Linked DNA regions of Homo sapiens: region 2 is linked to region 1. A link means that fine-mapping ties the variant in region 1 to the expression of a gene that starts in the linked region. Tissue or cell type: whole blood. Region 1 holds a variant in brackets; the other region holds the start of a gene. All regions are shown on one strand. Distances are between the middles of the regions.

Region 1 (10,121 bases):
GCATAAAGAAAAGAATAATTATTCCATTCCATTCCATTATTTTCTTAAAAAAAAAAAAAAAACCTACATATAGGTCTAAATGTTGACATCTAAACATCTAGTTATAATTTAAAGCAATACTTTTAGTAGGTATTACTAGGAATTCTTTTTTTTTTTTTTTTTTGGTTGCATAATCTTACTCTGATTTCCCCTAGACTTTAGTAAATCTGAAACTCTCCAAATCTCAGGACTAACCAAAGTTAGATAATTTAGAAATTGCAGTTGTTGACTCAATGGAAGGACAAGCTTTGAATGGGATTTTTTTTTGTTCTTAATGTGCTGTCAGCAGATGTTTACTTAAAGAGATTTTTTAATCTCCTCTAGGAAGATGATAAGATCAGATGGGCGTCTAGATGGGACTATATTCTGGAGTCTATGCCTCATACCCACATTCAGTGGTTTAGGTAAGAGTACAGAGTTAGCCTGCTTTTGCTTTCTACTTTTCTACCCTCTGTCCCTTTGAACATCTCATTTACTCTCAAATCCTCTCTACTTTATTCAAAAGTCTGGCCTTGGGTTCAAATCCTGGCTTTCAGCCACTGATTGTGAGTCACAGCAGGTCCCTTAATTTCTCAGCGTCTGTTTCTTTATCTAGAAATACCCACCTTATGGGATTGTTGTGAGGATTAAAGGACATCATGGGACAGAATATTTGAGGACATTGTCTGGCACATAAGAGTGTTCAGAAACAGAAGCCGCTGTTGTTGCTATGACTTTATTATTATCCCCTTCAAACATGATTCAAAACTTTTATCTAGAGTTGTTCATGTTGCCATAACTCTCCTTTTCCTATTGCTGTCTGATCTTTTTGACACTCACTAATTTACTGAGTAAAGTTGTTCTTCAGTAAATTTCTTGAGGGCACAAGCCAGTCCTTTGTTGTGGCAGTGATTTGGGCACAGTAGTTATTTCATAATATTGACCATGTACCAAAAAATTCTAGTTCTAAACAGACTATGAAACTGTATTATGATAAGTATATAATGTTATTTATCTACTGGAGGGAAACATGAAAGAACACAGTTCATTGAATTTGTTGGATTTCAGATAGCTTTCATTTTGATTTTGATCAAGACTGTTTTAATGTTACTCAATAAACAGTTTTTAAAAGAGTTTTACTGTTCCTAGGATTAAGCTACAGATTACTCATGATGTGCTTATTTCTACAGCATTATGAATTCCCTGGTCATTGTTCTCTTCTTATCTGGAATGGTAGCTATGATTATGTTACGGACACTGCACAAAGATATTGCTAGATATAATCAGATGGACTCTACGGTAAGTGGAAACATTTTAGTCTTTAGTCTGCCAAGGACACTGTTTATTGTTATTTTGCAAAAAGGTAAAATAATAGCTTTAGAATCTGCTTTTAAAACATTCTTCAAAAAACAAAAACAAAAACAAAAAAATTCTTCTCAAAAGTTATCTTGAATTCACATTTTCAAATAAGAAAGTGATACTTAAGAATTAATATTCTTGGCTGGGCGCGGTGGCTCACACCTGTAATCCCAGCACTTTGGGAGGCCGGGGTGGGCGGATCACCTGAGGTCAGGAGTTCAAGACCAGCCTGACCAACATGGTGAAACCCCATCTCTCCTAAAAACACAAAAATTAGCTGGGTGTGGTGGTGGGGACCTGTAGCCCCAGCTACCTCGGGAGGCTGAGGCAGGAGAATTGCTTGAACCCAGGAGGCGGAGGCTGCAGTGAGCCAAGATCGTGCCACTGCACTCCAGCCTGGCAACAGAGCAAGACTCTGTCTCAAAAAAAAAAAAAAAAAATAGAAATGGAGTCAGCACAGCCTTGGGAGCTGACCTGTTCACAGCCTCCTGTGTGGGAATGGACTGGTGCAGCGTGGGGTGTAGGTGCACAGTTACAACTCTGTAAGGTTTCTCCATCCCTGACACATACCTGTTTGTGAAACCACAAAGTTGAATGGAATAACTCCTAAGCAATTTTTATTTGTGTGGTTAATTTTTTAAAATTAATCTTAACAAATTTGTATCATTTCAACCTTTTGATATATTTAAAATAATTGCATGTTCCAGCCTCTTTAGTCTCAAACTTTTTAAGTTGCACAGTGTTACACATTTTCTACTCTTCATTTCATGGCAGCATAATAAAAGAATTTTCACAAGAATCACAGTAATTTGGAATGAATGCAAAAAACTCAGGTTTTTATTGTATTCTCTTCCCCCAGCTTCTTCAGCCTCCTGTCCCCCAACCTCTCTGACCTGTTCTGATTGGGGAAAATATATATGAATATTCATAAGCTTTTAACGTTTGTACTCTATAGTCTCTTTCCTATGATTTTTATTGATTTTATGTCTTATTAAATATTAAAATGATTTTAAAATACTCTGTTTATAATTGGCTGTTCCACATAATTGCTGTTAATGGAGTTTTATCTTAATTTGCACAGCGTTGCCATGTGGAACCAGGCCAGTGGTGACTCTGCTTCCACAACCCTGTCCTACTTCCCATCTCTTAGCACAGCAGTCAGAGTGAAACTGCTCAAACAGAAGTCAGATCATTTCACTCTTGAGCACGGCCCTCCAGGGACTTCTGTTCAGTCAGAGCAAGAGTCAGAGGCTTTACAGTGGCTTCTAAGGCCCCACGTTACCTCAGCACTCTGCTGCACCTGTGCCGGCTACCTTGCTGTTCCTCAGACCAGGCAGACATAGGTTTCCACCTCAGAGCCTTCACGAAGCTCACTGTTTTATCTGCTAAGAAGGTCTGCCCCTCATTTACATGGCTAGTTCCCTTACCTCCCTCCGATCTTTACAAAATGTGATCTTCCCATTGAACCCCTCCCAGCCATCACATATGTTACATCCTGTCCTGCACACACCCATACATCCTGTTTTTCTGTACAGCGCTTATTACCATCTAATGTACAGTATACTTTCCTGACTTATTTTGTTTATTGTCTGCCTTCCCAATGAGATCATGTACTCCTGAGAGTAGGAATTTTTCTGTTACACTCACTGTGGTATCTGGTGTTTTAAACAGAGCCGAGCTTATAGTTGGTGCTCAATGAATGTTTACATCCATGCTTACTGTATTAGCAAAGTAGCTAGAATATGAGAGCTAATGCCATTTGCTTATTGTGGAGATCATTAAGAGTAGGATGAAGAGGATAGAATGTGACTAAAAATCGTCATCAAGTCAGATCACAAAGCTTGACTTAGAGTAGAATTAGGTAGCAATCACATTGTCTTTGTAAAGTTTCTCAATAAGTATATTTGTAGACCTTAATGTCATAAATTTAAGAAACTGACATATAAGACAGTTCAGCAAAGCCATATTAAGCTCCATGAGTCAAGCTGTATTCTTCAAAATTGAAATAGGTACTAACATTTTTAAGTTTAAAAAAAACCTGTTTTCTGTAACAGCATATTCAACAGTGAACAAACTGTCTATAGTTGTCTTGTTGATACCATGAGACAATCGAACTGATTTCATTCCCCTTTTAGGAAGATGCCCAGGAAGAATTTGGCTGGAAACTTGTTCATGGTGATATATTCCGTCCTCCAAGAAAAGGGATGCTGCTATCAGTCTTTCTAGGATCCGGGACACAGATTTTAATTATGACCTTTGTGACTCTATGTAAGTGTTAACTGAAAATTTTCAAGTAGAAAATACTTTCTAAATACAGTAATTGCTTAAAAACCAGTTTTTCTGGCCGGGCATGGTGGCTCATGCCTGTAATCCTAGCACTTTGGGAGGCCAAGGCGGGTGGATGACAAGGTCAGGAGTTTGAGACCAGACTGGCCAATATAGTGAAACCCCGTCTTTCTACTAAAAATACAAAAACTGGGCATGGTGGCAGGTGCCTGTAATCCCAGCTACTTGTGGGGCTGAGGCAGTAGCTTGAACCTGGGAGGCGGAGGTTGTAGTGAACTGAGATTGCGCCACTGCACTCCAGCCTGGGTGACAGTGCAAGACTCCATCTCAAAAAAAAAAACAAAAAACACCACAGTTTTTCTAAGTGGGTAGGTAAGCCAGATTATTTCTGAGCATCCTTTAGGTTCTCAAAATCTAAGTGACTTGGGGCAGGTTTAG[T/C]TGCACCCAAAGACTGACTCTTGGTTTCTCCCTTCAGCTCTTCCTAGACCAAGCCTTTGTCAGGGAGGCACTGGGCTGGAGATGAACAGGTCCTTAAGACCATCAGCATCTGAGTCTAAACAGCCCAGAACTGGGACCATTTAGGGTCTCTTTTACCCAGGCATCGTGGGCAGGCACAGTCTGGTTAGGGTTCCAGGATATTCTTGGCTTCCACGGAGGGAGGAGGGTGGGAAAAGAAGGGATGGGGCAGGAAGCACTGTGTAGATCCTTCTCATCTGGGGAGGATTTGGGAAGCAGGATCTCTCTCCTCTAGGGAAAGCGAGTGTGTAGGAAAGACCTTCCTTCCTCCATAAAAAGATTCTCTTCTTTGAGCTACCTCAGCGACTTCAGAAATTGTATTTAAATTTTTGCCAACTAGGACAATTTTTTTTTTTAAATAAATGTTCCTTAGAGGTATTGATAGCCACAGGGATTGTTCTGAAACTACCTCTGGGTATATGTTAATTCCACTGTCTTCCAGTTTCCTTAATTGGAAGATAAAAAAGGTTTATGAATAGAATTTTCTAAATTTTACCTTTATTTAATGTATTTTACTTTATTGATGCCTGCTACTGATAAATAGCAACAAATGAATATACTGGGAGAATTCAGAAACTAACCTTTAATAATTTTTTAGTAAACATTTATTTTTTATGTTTGATTACATATTAAATACATAATACCACAGTTATTTTTGTTAGTAAAGTTGTTCCAAATTTTTATGATAAAATTAATTATATAAATGCTTTGCAAAGAGCAGTATCATTTTCAAATGTCTGGCACTGAATAAGTTTGGGAACCAAACTCACACCTTCAGGTTCAGTTTGAAGACTGACTAGGATATCTTTTTTTTTTAATCTACTAACAACTTAAGGAGATACAATTTTGATAGGTAGAGCTAGAATTTGTAACTATATCATACTAAAGAGAAGTTAAGTCATACTAAAGAGAATAGGTCAGGAAAAGGTGTCATAAAAAAGGTTTGGACAGAGGGTGGTAGGGTGAAGGCACTGGGTGACAGAGAGCCAAACTAGACTTAGAGCAGAATGAATGTTTGAAGATAAACTTCTGCTTTCTTTCTTTCTTTTTTTTTTTGAGACGGAGCCTCGCTCTGTCACCAGGCTGGAGTTCAGTGGCGTGATCTTGGCTTACTGAAACCTCCACCTCCTAGGTCCAAGTGATTCTTCTGCCTCAGCCTCCTGAGTAGCTGGGATTACAGGCGCCTGCCACCACGCCTGGCTGATTTTTGTATTTTTGGTAGAGACACGGTTTCACCATGTTGTCCAGGATGGTCTCAATCTCTCAACCTCGTGATCCGCCCGCCTCGGCCTCCCAAAGTGCTGGGGTTACAGGCGTGAGCTACCACACCCAGCCAACTCCTGCTTTCAAATCTTATTAGGAGCTGTCTTCTGCGATGCTCTGGTTTTTATTGCGGTCAGCTAGAAAAGTGAACTTTTAAGGAAGGAAAGTTTCAGAGAGTCTAGGATAGAATACGATGGGAATAATTTTCCTTAAGTCCTCAAATAGGAACTTTCTGCCGAAGGGCAGTCCATTTTTCAGGTCGAGGAGGAGAAAGGGGTTGCATTTTAGCTGAAATCTTGTACATCTTCTAAAGCTACCCTGATGTGTTTCCTGCTCATCATGACTCTGGTGCTTGTCAGAGGTGTGTGCGCGTGCTTGCTCACATACGTGCTTGGTCATGCACGTTTTAGGGGAAACAATAGGGGGGGAAACAATGGGGATTTTCTTGCTGAGCCTCCTGAAACTCAGTTCTCAGCAGTATCCTACTCACCTTGGGATTCTGAGCACCTTATAACTTCTGAGCCCCAGCTTAAAGCTGGGAATTTCTATGAATATAATATAGCATTTTAATTCTCATTAGTAGGAAGGCTTACATAGGGAAGAGCAAACAAAGCTAACCACGTGAATAAGGTAGGGCCAGGGTTTCCCCGTATTGCTGACAAGGTCCTTCCGTAATTTGTGAAAAGCTAATGGCCGTATGAAATCTTTCTCCCTCATTTTGTTCTTTCATTAGATTATATATGTCTCTTCTGTTTGAATGTTGTAAGGTTTTGGGTTTTTTTTTTTTTACCCCCAGAGGACCCCCATATTTTTTAATGAAAGAACAGTGGGAATATTTTGTAGTGGAAACATTTTCACTTATGTCAATTTTAAAGGCTGTACTTGAATCTCAGAAGAGTCAAATGCACTCTTGAGCATCCAGTCAGCCTCCCCTGATCACAGGAAGGATGTGATCTCTCATTCTGGACTCTGAGAAGAAACTTCCAAAGTGAAGTTTGCCTCATGTATGATCAGATTGGTGCAGTACAGTAAATATTACTAAGATTGTGTAGAGCTGCATGGTAGGAGAGCACATGGTTTTGCGTGAAGTTGTATTTTTTTCTTGTTTGAAAAATGAGAGGGTTTCTCTATCATTTCACAGCAAAGGAAACAGAGTAATAACATGTACAGCCTTTCACGATTTGTGTTTTAGTTTTCGCTTGCCTGGGATTTTTGTCACCTGCCAACCGAGGAGCGCTGATGACGTGTGCTGTGGTCCTGTGGGTGCTGCTGGGCACCCCTGCAGGCTATGTTGCTGCCAGATTCTATAAGTGTAAGTCAAAGCCACTGTGACTGGCGTCTGATCAGGAAGGGACTCTGCTGCGGCTGTGGATCTGACCTGGGTATCAGATGGTGATGCTTTGTAAATAGTGTGCCTCATAGGGGTCTGTTCTTAGTTAAAAGGAGCCTGCTTGGTGATTCCTTTTGTGTCATGAGTTACTATCCCAAAATTTATTTGTTCGAAAATGTTTAGTGAAACAAGCAAATTGTGCCACTTATCCACTATCCCCTCCCTCTTTTTTTCTTTAAGCTTTGGCTAACAGGTTGGGCTGAACAGCTTAGATTTGCTGTGTTCATAGAAGCACATATAGACTAATAAAGGAGAAAAGTATACAAATGAGTATCACTGATTTTTTTCACTAAAACAACTAGTACATCTAGGTGTACCTTTTCTTACATATGAGAAGTCATACTTACATTGTATCAATTTAATATTTATAAAAATACACTGTTTCAAGTAAACAAAGATCTCATTATTTTGGAGACCTGGAAAGTTACTTTTGTAATATCATTAGTCACAATCTCTTGTGTTCTTGCATTCTAGAAGTAAAATAAAGTTCAGTGAAACAAAAGGCTCACGGCCACAGAGTAAGGCTGAGATGGGACTGGATGGCTTAGAAAGCAGCTGGCAGGGTCAGCAGGGACCAGAGCTGGCCTCCTCGGGAATGCCACAGTCTCGTCTGGGATATACAGTGATTCCCCACGGTCTAGCAATGTGAAAAAGTTTTGAGGTGAAGCACAGTAGAGTTACGTGGACAACCTTAATGTGGGGTTGGGTAGTCTCAGCCCCCAGTAAAAGATTAACTTAGACCTTGTCAGACACAGTTCTCTCTTGAGTATGTGAAGCCCTGTATGTATGTGTGTTTTAAGTGTGTTTTAATTTCTGTGAATTTTGTCAAGTTCTTTCTTCCCCTTTACTAAAGGAGGTAGGATTAGGGCCATCATACGGATTTTAATGCATACAAAATACAGTCAGCCCTTTGCCTGCCACACCAGCCTTACTTCATGCCACACTCCCCCTTTCTCACCATTTCAGCCACACAGGCTTTCTGTCGGTTCCTCGGACAGGCTGCCTGCTTTCCCACACCCTGCTCCCATCTGCACTCCACTCACTAATGCCTCCCCATCCTTCAGGTCTCCCAGCTGCAGATCCTGTATTACTTGAATTTTGACTGAAATTATAGTAAACCCAGAATTAATCATTTCATAACAGTCTGTTTATCAGAAACATTGTGAGTTCAAATCATGATACATATATATGATCTTATGTGTATATGTAATTTTATTATTTTCTTTTAGGGCAAGTGGCACTTAAACTTGCCTATCAACTATGTTAAAACTTTTTTAAAAATCACAGCTGTTCTGAGATCTCAGCCAGTTTCATTTCTGACTTAAACTGGGAGCAGACGTGTACTTTCATTTTTCACTCTAGCTACTTCAGTATTTGAATTCTTTAAACTGGAAAAAAAAGCAAGTTGGAGAGGGGCAAAGGAGAGTAAAACATATATTAGCAAACATGGTCTGTCAAATGGTCATAACCCTTCTACTCTTCTTAGTTGCCTCATCTGACACACGCACCTCCTAGGAACCACAGTTCCTCCTAGAAACCACAGTGCTAGAGGAAGAGTTGGCCTACTGTGGAAGTGTAAATGTGTTGCACATCAGGCTTGACGGTTCCCAGTTTTATAACAAATTCTGAAACTGACTGCAAGATAAGTGAGAATCCCGTGTGCCCTTCCTGTGCCTAGGCCCATTGATTGATACTGGCTCAGGATTTAAGGATTCTTTTGGTTGTGAGGGGAAAAGAAGAACTGATCTTGATGACTTGCCTCTGATTCTCTAGAGCAGGACTTACCTAGGGAATCCCATCCTGTATGTCTCAGATTTGGATTATTTAATAAAGGAATATCATATTATATTTGCTAGTACCATTTTCTAGGAATGAGTACTCATTGCTGTCTGACAGTTTGGCAAATATCAGACTTGTAATATGGATATTTGGTTTGCTTTAAAGAAAATCTGTATTTATACAACTTTTGTTTTCTTCTATAGCCTTTGGAGGTGAGAAGTGGAAAACAAATGTTTTATTAACATCATTTCTTTGTCCTGGGTAAGTGAATTTTTCAAGAATTACTTTCTTAACATAGTTACATGTTAGTCCCCAAATTTTCAGTCGTTGAGTCTTTAATCCTCCGTGTCTCTAAATCATGTACCTAAGAAAGTAAATTTAATTTTTGAAAAGGGGTAAAATAAATATTTTATAAACGTTTGCCAAATGATTACCACATGTCTTATCTGGGGAAAGTACCTTTAGACATGAGAAATGTTTTAATTCCTTCTCTTCAAAGTCTTTCTGTTTCTTGGTTTTTAGTGGTCAGTCTGACATGTTGTTCTGTAGGCTGCATTTAAAGCTTTTGAGCCAGGCACAGGAAGGAATCCTGAAGATAGTTCAGGCAAGCATATGTTTTCCCATTTTTATCCAAAGCATTGCCATTTTTTAGAGTTTATTCCATTAAGTAAAGTAATATACACCAAAAATAAAAAATAAGCAGCCACCACAAATCCAAAACAAAACAAAAATCCTTCACTCTCTGGAACTGCTTCTCCTCTCGATTATCTGATGCGGTTCTGGTCCTAGAAGCAAAACCCACTTCCTCCCAAACCTGCACATTTCTGGTGGGCAAGAACTGACACGTGAACAGGCTACAGCAATAAAGAAAGCCAAGGATGATGAAGTCTAGAAACCAGAACTGTTCCATTTGCAGGCTAGAAATGCAAGCGTGATGGCAGCAGCATTTTAATACACATTTGGGATAAATATTCTCTCTATCACCTCCACCGAAGATTCACATTCTTCTCAGTTATCGGTTCTATTCAAATTTCTATGCTTTTCTCAAGCCATGTCCTTTGTTTTCTTTCCCTCTGTCAACTCACGAAGGTGTCCGTCCTTACCAAGACTGTGATTTCCTGCAGAATCTCCGAATCTTGCTTTTCAGGCACCTCTCCCTCTAGTCTCACACATCTTCCATTGCTCCCTTCTCACATGTTCTGCTTATGTGGTTCTTTTATTCCTCCAAATAGGCTCATGTCTCCCCTAAAAAGGGATCATAAACATCTTCCCTTCTTATTTCCATCTCATTTCTTTTCTATTCCCAACAAAATGCCTTGAAAAAAATAGTCTCTACTCCTTTCTTCTCATTTTCTCAGTAAACATTTGCAGTGTAAAGCCACGTCATTCGTATTTTTCTCCATCATTTTACTGAAACTTTTAAGTTTGCCAATAATGTTCCCATTTTCAAATCCAGAAACGATTTTCTCTGTATTGTCTAACATTGGAATACCTTCTTGAAACTCCTTCC
Region 2 (10,121 bases), 46 kb before region 1:
CCAAAATTTATTAGGTGGGAATTTCCTCGTCCTAATAAGCCTGGGAGCACTATGGGAGTCCGGGGCTTATTTCTTCCCTTATCTACGACCATAAAAGACAGCCGTCCCCAGAGTGGCCATTTTGGAGGACTACCCCTAGGCACACATTCTCTGTCTCAGGGCTGTTCCTTGCTGAGAAAAAGAATTCAGCGATATTTCTCCTATTTGCTTTAGAAAGAAGAGAAATATGGCTCTGTTCTGCCCGGCCCATAGGCAGCCAGACGTTAAGATTATCTCCCTTGTTCCTTGAACGTTGCTGTTATCCTGTTCTTAAGGTGCCCAGATTTGATACTGTTCAAACACACATGCTCTACAAACAATTTGTGCAGTTAACACAATCATCACAGGGTCCTGAGGCGACTTACATCCTCCTCAGCTTACGAAGATGACGGGATTAAGAGATTAAAGTAAAGACAGGCATAGGAAATCACAAGAGTATTGATTGGGGAAGTGATAAATGTCCATAAAATCTTCACAATTTATGTTCAGAGATTGCAGTAAAGACAGGCGTAAGAAATTATAAAAGTGTTAATTTGGGGAACTAATAAATGTCCATGAAATCTTCACAGTTTATGTTCTTCTGCCATGGCTTCAGCCAGTCCCTTCATTCAGGGTCCCTGACTTCCCACAACACTCCACCACTGAGGACCTACTATGAACTTTCCTTAAGGTTTTTCTATCCCACTTAAAGCAACCCTTTAACCCTTTAAATTTAGGCAATAAATTGCCTTTCATGAATTTTCCCCCCACCCCATGCCCCACACAGACCACCTCCGACATGCTCAGACCCTCTGACTTGTATAACCTTTTTTGCATAGTCTGTCCTTTAGCCAGATGAGTAGGGGAAGGGAAGAACTTAGCATAAGAAAAGGTTTAAGTCTCCTGAAAAGTGTGTGAGTTCGCCCAGGATGAGCTTCCGCTGCCAACCGCATCACATGTAGGGATCAGGGACTATAGCTGGAAAGGATAGAAAAGAGTCCTTCCCTCTTCAAGGCAGGGCAGCCATCCCTGTTCACTCCTTGGCCTTCAGACAGCACTGGAGAGTGGTCCCAGCCAGTTCCCCTCAATTGCCAAGGAGCTACTAGAAAACAGCCACTGAAAGACTGGAAAAGAAAAAAAGGGAAATAACTCAGAAAAAGGAAAAAAGGAATAGGACTCAGAAAAACAAAAACAAGGAAAAGGACTCAGGTCCCTCACCCAAACCCAGTGGTGTTACTCAGACGCTTCCACATGGAAGCCTTTCAGTTTCACCAGAGAGAGGCTCTGGCCAGAAACTTGCAGTTGTCACTATGCTTAGGCACTGTTCACCAAGAGTCCCGAGTTGGAAAGGAAAAGAAAGAGAGAAAGATTCCCCTGTATGTAGCAGAGAGGAAAAGAAGAAAGGAGAAAAATAAATCCCATACTTTGGGCTTCCTCCTACCTGGCTCGCCAAACCCGTAGAGGGTCTTGAGTGCAAGTTGTCCAGATTCTTGGGGTTTTGAACAAAGAATTGAACAAAACGCACTGCAAAGCAAGGAAAGCAGAGATTTATTGAAAGTGAAAGTACACTTCACAGTGTGGGAGTGAGCCCAAGCAGTAGCTCAAGAACCCCGGATACAGAATCTTCTCAGGTCCAAATACCCTCTAGAGGTTTCCCATTGGCCACCTACTTGGTGTTTGCCTCATGTAAATGAAGTGGTGGCCCGCAATCAGAGGCTAAAGTGAAGTTACAAAGTTGCACTTCCATGCAAATGAAGATTCAGCCCACAATCAGTCTGATTGGTTGCGGACAGCAAGTTGTCCAGGTTCTTGGCGTTTTGAACAAATAATTGGACAAAACGCACAGTAAAGCTAGGAAAGAATGAAGCAAGGAAAGCAGAGATTTATTGAAAGTGAAAGTACACTTCACAGTGTGGGAGCAGGCTGAGCAGCAGCTCAAGGGCCCCAGATACAGAATCTTCTCGGGTCCAAATACCCTCTAGATGTTTCCCATTGGCCACTTACTTGGTGCTCACCCCATGTAAATGAAGTGGTGGCCTGCAATCAGAGGCTAAAGTGAAGTTACAAAGTTGCACTTCTATTCAAACGAAGCCTTGGCCCACAATCAGTCTGATTGGTTGGGGACAGCAACCAATCAGAGGCTGAAGTGAAGTTACAAAGTTACACTCTATGCAAACATCTGATTAGTTGCAGAAAGCAACCAATCAGAGGCACTTTCAATTTTCCAGCTGCGGCACAGAAAAGGTGGGGGTTTGCAAAGGGAGTGGCCTCTGGGCCTTTTGTTACTTAGGAGTGGAAAGTTAGGGTTTTCCTTTCCAAATGGCTCTAGGAAGTCAGTGTGAAACGGCCTTAGGTTCCCTGCTCGCAGACCCTGTTCTCCTGCCTAACTACTAGAGTACAGTGTGCACTTCCTAAAAACGGAAGCACTTTTGCTAATAATTTTAACTTGACACAAAAGTAGGGTGATCAGATAAAATACCCTTATGTCCCATGTAATAGTTGGAATGTACTTATACTAAAAAATTATTCATTGATCATCTGAAATTAAAATTTACCTGGGTATACTGTACTTTTATTTGCTATATCCGACAATCTTATACAGAAGTCGTCATGGGAAACTCAGAAAAGGCTGTCCAAATTATTCTGGCAGAGAGGAGTGGAAGAAACAAATGCCATTTAGGTTGGGTGCAGTGGCTCACACCTGTAATCCCAGCACTTTGGGAAGGCAAGGTGGATCACGGGGTCAGGAGATGGAGACCACCCTGGCCAATATGGTGAAACCCCATCTCTACTAAAAATACAAAAATTAGCTGGGCGGGGTGGTGCGTGCCTGTAACCCCAGCTACTGGAGAGGCTGAGGCAGGAGAATTGCTTGAACCAGGGAGTCAGAGGTTGCAGTGAGCCAAGATGGCGCCACTGCACTCCAGCTTGGTGACAGAGTGAGATTCTGTTTCAAAAACAAAAGAAAAAGAAAAAAAGACACAAATGCTGTTAAAAAAAATTTAAAAGACAAAAACAAAAAACTGTGGGGCCCGGCGTGGTGGCTCACGCGTGTAATCTCGGCACTGGGGGAGACCAAGGCAGGCGGATCACCTGAGTTCAGGAGTTCGAGAACAGCCTAGCCTGGCCAACATGGTGAAACCCCATCTCTACTAAACATACAAAAATTAGCTGGGCGTGGTGGCTGGCACCTGTAATCCCAGTTACTTGGGAGGCTGAGGCACAAGAATCGCTTGAACCTGGAAGGCGGAGGTTGCAGTGAGCTGAGATCCTGCCACTGCACTCCAGCCTAGGCAACAGCGAGACTCTGTTGCATTTAAAAAAAAATTGTGGTAAAATATACATAATAGAAAACTTACCGTCTAACCATTTTTAAGTGTACACTTCTGTGACATTAGCATATTTGCATTGTTGTGCAGTCATCACCATTCATCCCAACTTTTTCACCAACCCATACTGAAACCGTATGCCATTAAACAGTAAATCCCCATCCCTCCTTCTGCAGACTCTCTCTACAACCACTGCTCTACTTTCTGTCTCTATGAATATGACAGCACCATAGTATTGGCGGTAAATCAGAGTTGGCAAATGCAATCTGAAGCAGAGGAGAGGAGAGAGTCATATCCCTCAAGTTTTACAGTCCCATTAAAAGTATTAGTACTTTGAGAAAAGGACCGTCACGATCATGGGGAGAATGAAGGAAAAACTCCATTTCTTTCCAGTTTGCAACTGGAATTGTCACTTTCGTCTTTCGGCACGACAGCGCCCAGGCCACAAAAGCCCACAGGGCAGGGCCTCCATTTTGTGGCCTGCGTGGAGGGCGGGGCGGTCTCTCTCCGCCACGCCCCAGCACCGGGTAGACACCGCAGCCACGTAACCAAGGAACCCCGAATGAGGCGTTGGCCAGGTGAGGCCGGATCCGGAAGTAGGGGGACCACTTCGCCCCGCGTACGAGCCCCGCCCCCGGCCCCTCCCACCAGACCCAGGCCGACCTAGATGACGTGTCCGAGTAGGAGTTGGCGAGGTGCGGCCGGGCGGCCGGCCCTGCGCATGCGTGATACTTGCACCGGTCGAGATGGTAGCATGAGTCTGGAGGTCATTTTCTTTGAGAAAGGCTCCGCTTCTCCGGGTTTTTGCTGATGCCGATCCCGGGGGATTGAGGAAACATTGAGCTCTGGAGTGGAAAAGGTTGCAGACTTTTAGACTCCCAAGTCGTTGTAGTCTCAATCTCTAGTGGCTGCGTTACTGCAGGAAGTCACGGAAGCCTCTCCCCTTTCTTAGGCGCATCCTTGGCTGTAAAAGGAGGTTAAAAGCCCCTGGAAAACCTCAGGTTTATTTCAGCTCTGAAAGTCCGGTTCCAAATTTAGATCCAGCACTCTTGTGGCCTGGCCAGTGATGGTCGTGGAGTGCTTTCCCCGCGCCTGCGGTCTCTAGGCTCTGTGGATGTAGAGGTGTGGGATGTAGGAGCAGGCCCTTACCCGTGGAATTCACATATAAATGGGGGAATGAGACAGCAAACAAACAAACGTGATCCTTCCTGATAGTGGTAAATGTGGGATGCCGAGGTTTAAGCAGACGAGTGGTATTAAGGGATTTCAAGGTTTTATAAAATTGATTTTGCCAAGAGTGGAAGCTGAGAGGCTACTGCAGTAAGAAGTCCAGGGGAACTAAGAATTTGGCTTGGACCAGAGTGGTAGCTGTGGGCATGGAAAGTACTGAAAGGATTTAGCCCATAGTTTAGCAGCCCAACCAACGGGACCTGCTGAAGGACTGGAGGTAGGTAGTGAGGAAATGAGAAATTTAGGTTCTTCTCCAGGGTTGGGGCCTGAAAAGAGATGGGCAGCGATGCCGTTTCCTGGAAAACTGGGAGAGGAAATGTTTGGGATGAGGGCAGTGAGATATAATGAAGGTCAAGTTTTTTTTTTGTTTTTTTTTTTTTTTTTTTGAGACGGAGTCGTGCTCAGTCGCCCAGGCTGGAGTGCAGTGGCGCGATCTCGGCTTACCGCAAGCTCCGCCTCCCGGGTTCACGCCATTCTCCTGCCTCAGCCTCCCAAGTAGCTGGGACTACAGGAGCCCGCCACCACGCTCGGCTAATTTTTTTGTATTTTTAGTAGAGACGGGGTTTCACCGTGTTAGCCAGGATGGTCTCGATCTTCTGACCTCGTGATCCGCCCATCTCGGCCTCCCAAAGTGCTGGGATTACAGGCGTGAGCCACCGCGCCGGCCGAAGGTCAAGTTTCAGTGGTGCTAGGAAAAGAAGATAGTGAGCAAAAATGTTAATTTTTGTTTCCTCCTCTTAATATTTGGAGAAAACGTCTGCTTCCTTTTGTTATATTGGAAATCTCCATGACTTCCAAATACAGAATATTTTACAATTTTTCCCTATCCCAAAGTTCAGCGAATATGTTGATTTATTTGAGGGAGAGGACATGAAAGGGAAGCCACCTAGGCACAATTTTCTGCTCAGGCCCTACCAGATTAGTTTTTGTTATCAAAAAAAAAAAAAAAAGTGCCATTCCTTGGGCCAAGCTATGTGCTCAGCACTTTCCCTCCATTTTTGATTTAATCTTCACAACAACCTTAAGATGAACGTTCTTTTCTACTTCCCAGTTCTCTTGATTAACTTGGCTACCCCACTATATGGATCAATTTGCAGGGTCCTAGGTCCCTTTGAAAATCTGATGAAAGTTATAAACCTTACCTGGGAAAAAAGTACAAACACCCGCAAGAACTTGAAATAGGAGTTCACTGGCCCTCAACTTTCTGAGCTTACTATTTCACAAACCTGCCTATTCTTGAATTCTGAGCTGGAGGTCATGATTCTCTCTTATGTACTTTAAGATGATGCACTCTTCCGAAGTTTTTGATTGAACTCTAGTGGCTAACTGAATTGACTTTTTCAGATCACTAAAAAGCTTCTCCTTGAAAAATACTCAGAAGATGCAACACACACACACACACACGTGTGTGCACTTACACACGCGGACACCGTCTCACATCATCAGTGGGAAAAGTGATAGAATCTTGCTAAAGGCTGATCATACCATATTAATCCGATTCGCCAGAACTACTTTCTTCACTGAGCTCTCAGGTATGCTCGGGTCTTCCTTTAAAGAAAATAAATGTCAACGCTACACTCTATCCTACTCCCATTTTCCTCCTCACCCCATTTCCACTCTCCCTTAAAGAGATGTGTGCACACAATCACTGCCCAATGCAAGAATGCACCACTGCATCCAATGCTTGGAAATTGTCCGTGAAGATGCCTTTGAGTAGCTGTCTATTTGAGGATTTGTGGCTAATTCCTCCCCATTTGTTTCCTTAGCCTGCTCCCAACCAGGTGTCTCCAGAACTTTTTCTCTCCGCCACCAACTCCGCCTCCAGACAGACCGCAGGTGCTTTCTGTCATAGGGACTGGCGTGCCGCGGACAGTGTGACAAAGAAACTGTATGATGGATATGAGAACTTCGTAAGACCCAGCAGCAAACGGGGAGCGGCTGGCGAGCGCTCCACAGCCCCCAAGCGTGGGAGCTCTAGATCGGAATTTGTAATTTGGAATTGGAACGTGAGCGCCGGAACAGCTCTCCCAGCAACCACCTCTCCCAGCAACCACCTCAGCTGGCGCGCGGAAAACCCGGAAAGTGGATTTCGCCCCCGCTCCCTCCCGGAAACTCCTCCTGGTGCCTGCGACCGTTCTCACTGAGCATGTGCAGACGGCGGTGCGCATGCTCTGTTGCGGTCCGCTTCGGTTTCTGTTGCGGGACCCGGGGTGTCTCCTAGCGCAACCGGAACTAGCCTTCTGGGGGCCGGCTTCCTTTATCTCTGGCGGCCTTGTAGTCGTCTCCGAGACTCCCCACCCCTCCTTCCCTCTTGACCCCCTAGGTTTGATTGCCCTTTCCCCGAAACAACTATCATGAGCGCGAGGCTGCCGGTGTTGTCTCCACCTCGGTGGCCGCGGCTGTTGCTGCTGTCGCTGCTCCTGCTGGGGGCGGTTCCTGGCCCGCGCCGGAGCGGCGCTTTCTACCTGCCCGGCCTGGCGCCCGTCAACTTCTGCGACGAAGAAAAAAAGAGCGACGAGTGCAAGGTGGGTGAGGCCTGACGAGCCCTCTGATGCACTGTTGGAAGGGGAAGTCGTCCCTATCCGGGGGAGCTGATCCTCGGGTGGGAGCGAGGGAAGGGGGCGTAGCAGCGGGTGGGGTTGAGTTTCCCCAGAAGCTTTTGGGGTCTGCTGGGCTGTGGGTGGGGGGCTCTGAAACAGCCCTTGCAAGGGTAGTTTCTGGAGGACGCAGTGGGCCTCAGACTCGCCTCCCGTCTTGCGGGCCAAGTGGCACGAGCAGCTGTATTCAGTTTTCCTGGAACAGGGACCGTGTGGAGCGCCCTTGGAGTTGGGCTTCACGCCTCAGAGCTTTGGAGTTGGATGTATGCAGGTCCACGCGTGAGTGTTCGCTCACAGCCCTGTAACATGTACGCTGAGGAAGCGGGTGACCGACTCCCTACATGTGAGCAACACTCAGCCTAGTTAACAGTTTCCATTAGCTTTTAACTTCATTGCTTCCTGTTTAATTGCATTTTCCTGGAACCTTCTAGTTGGTTAGGAGAGCTTGTTCTTTCTAGGACTTTGATATCTCGCTTCACAATTAGAAGTTGGTTCCTTATTTGTGGAGTATAACACCCAGAGCCACACAAAGTGCATTAATAAAGAGTTGCTGTAATGGTTGAGGCACTTGATTTCTGAGTTTTAAGTGTAAAAGATTTTAATACACAAAAAAAGATACGAGGTCTCACTATTTTCTCTGAGATGGTTTTAAACACTTAAAAGGGGCAAATGGTGGGAGAAACTGGTGTTTTCCTAGGGCAAGTCTTGAAAACTTTGATCTCTTACAACATTCACACTCAAGGTTTTCAGTTTAATTGCTAGTAAAAGAGGCGTAAATAAAGTAACCTGCTTTTAGGTTATATGGTGTAGGGCTTTACAGTATACATACACAATTATTTCGTTAAGTTTATTTAAAACTTAACATTTGGGGGATGAGGATCTCTTTGAAACCTTTAATGATTTCAACAATTCAAATAATCGTTCAACAAACGTTTACAATCTATAAATAGGCTTATTTATTAAGTTTGATTTTTTTAAGCTGGTGTTTATTACAGTTAGCTTTACTATAGCTGTGAATTTTGAGGTTATTTTAGGGCATTAGATAAGCTTTAAATTTTTCATAACATTTTGCAGTTTCTTTTTAGGTTGTCAGCTATCTTGAATGACATGTTTATACATCTGTGCAAAACCTTGTATCTGAAAAAATATCTAAGGATATTTAAGGTTTACTCAAGTCTGCAGTTAGTGTTTCAGTACTTAAGTTCATACTCTGCAGTGCAAGAAGCTTTCACTCCTTTTTGAGGATTCTGACTGAAAGACTGTTGTTGTGCTTCCAAGTGGAAGATCTAGACTTGCAAGTACACTGGTTTTTCCATTAAATATTTTAGTAACCAACCTTTAAGGCCTAGTGTTTGGTCTTACTTTAACAGCAGTTGTATATTCTATTCCTAGTGCCTCAAAGATGAAAAATATATTTCCTGCCCTCTGGGAACCTCAAAGTAAGGGACATAAGCTTATGAACAGATTATTGAAATCTGATCTGTTACACAGGATGATGTCCAAAGTGTGCTAAAACAAAATGAGGAAACATCAGTGGACTAGAGTCTTTAGGGAAAGCTCTATAGAAGAAGTGACAGGGCCAGGTGTGGTGGCTCACGCCTGTAATCCCAACACATTGGGAGGCCGAGGCGGGTGGATCACCTGAAGTCAGGAGTTTAAGACCAGCCTGGCCAATATGGTGAAACCGCGTCTCTACTAAAAATACAAAAATTAGCTGGGCGTGGTGGCGGGCATCTGTAATCCCAGCTACTCGGGAGGCTGAGGCAGGAAGAATCGCTTGAACTCTGGAGGTGGAGGTTGCAGTGAGCTGAGATCGCGCCATTGCACTCCAGCCTGGGCAACAGAGCGAGACTTTGTCTCAAAAAAAAAAAAAAAAAAAAAAAGAAGAAGAAGTGACATTTGAGATGGACTTAGAAAATGAATAAGTGAAACTTATAGGTGGTCTTCCAGTTAGATGATTGTTTTCTCAACAGGTCCTTTGGTAAGTGGCTAGGTTGTATTCTAGTTATTTTTTAGTTAATCTTGGGAGTCATTTTGGATGTTTAATTTTCATAGGTATAGGGATAAAACAGGCAGAGCAGATCATTTTTCCGAAATGTTTGGATTTTTATCTTTATTGCCAGCTACACTCACATCTGGTTAATGGAAACAACTCTTAGAAGAGCAGGAGGGTGTACTTTCAGCTTTTTTCCTGCGATATGACTAACTGGTGTAGAGAATTTGAAATACACTTTAATATTTATTTTCTTTGCCTTTCAAAGAAGATGCTATAAATAACAGTAAACAGTTGAAATTTGTATTACTTCAATCAGGATGTTAATAATTTATTCTCATCTATTTCGTATTTGTTAAGGAGGACAGTCTTGTACACATTATTCAGAAAAGTGGAAGGAACTTCTTTTAAAAATTAGAAATGAGAGTTGTGAAATGGAAATAATTTTTTCCAAAAGATGCTGTTAAGTTAGTGAATCTGAAGTTGGAGAAATTGGGCAGGTCATTGATACTGTTACCAACAGTTTTTCCATCTGTAAAATAGGGATAATCATATTTGATTATGACATATTCCCCTTGAAAGGTATTTTGCATTTCTTAGAGGAAAAGTGCAATATTTGTCATTGTTGTGATAGTGTAGAGATGAAACAAATATATCTTCAACTTATATATAATTTAGGTAGTAGAGTGTTTTTATGTACTGTAAAGTTTGTCTCATGCATTTAGCTCAGGATGTAAATTGAGAGAGAATCAGAAGAATGCTGAGGATTTAGTAATTTTCTCTCTTTAAAAATTATCTTATGTTGAATTTACTGGCAGAGAAACAGGAGTCCAGTGAATATAAAATTCTATTTATATTGCTGTAACTTCTGATTAATTTTCTTAGCCTTCATAGATACTGTGAGTATGTTTTCATGGCCTCCTTTTTTTAACTTATTTTACATGTGCGTGCATT

What was found. PIP is the estimated chance that this variant, and not a neighbour inherited with it, causes the effect.
Region 2: LINC01232 starts here. The variant in region 1 is fine-mapped to the expression of LINC01232 in whole blood (TOPMed, PIP 0.99).

What each region holds. Positions count from the first base shown.
Region 1 is chr13:99,540,351-99,550,471 of GRCh38, forward strand. It overlaps TM9SF2 (transmembrane 9 superfamily member 2), which reads left to right. Exons shown (of 17, transcript NM_004800.3): 8 at 364-443; 9 at 1,209-1,317; 10 at 3,513-3,645; 11 at 6,635-6,754; 12 at 8,815-8,872. Among named protein-coding and RNA genes, the nearest start is that of LINC01039, 32 kb to the right of the region's middle. RefSeq lists a silencer at 2,481-2,550 and enhancers at 2,901-2,960, 5,928-6,077, 8,025-8,074. The variant T/C (reference allele first, on the strand shown) is at 4,102.
Region 2 is chr13:99,494,676-99,504,796 of GRCh38, forward strand. It overlaps LINC01232 (long intergenic non-protein coding RNA 1232), which reads right to left and starts at 4,631. Exons shown (of 5, transcript NR_110731.1): 1 at 4,011-4,631; 2 at 2,574-2,661; 3 at 1,700-1,869; 4 at 1,460-1,542. TM9SF2 (transmembrane 9 superfamily member 2) reads left to right here and starts at 6,797. Exons shown (of 17, transcript NM_004800.3): 1 at 6,797-7,102. The coding sequence starts at 6,932. It overlaps LINC00449 (long intergenic non-protein coding RNA 449), which reads right to left and starts at 6,388. Exons shown (of 2, transcript NR_133664.1): 1 at 5,720-6,388; 2 at 5,048-5,265. RefSeq lists enhancers at 650-1,164, 3,885-4,094, 4,105-4,224, 6,503-6,682, 6,589-7,177 and 1 more.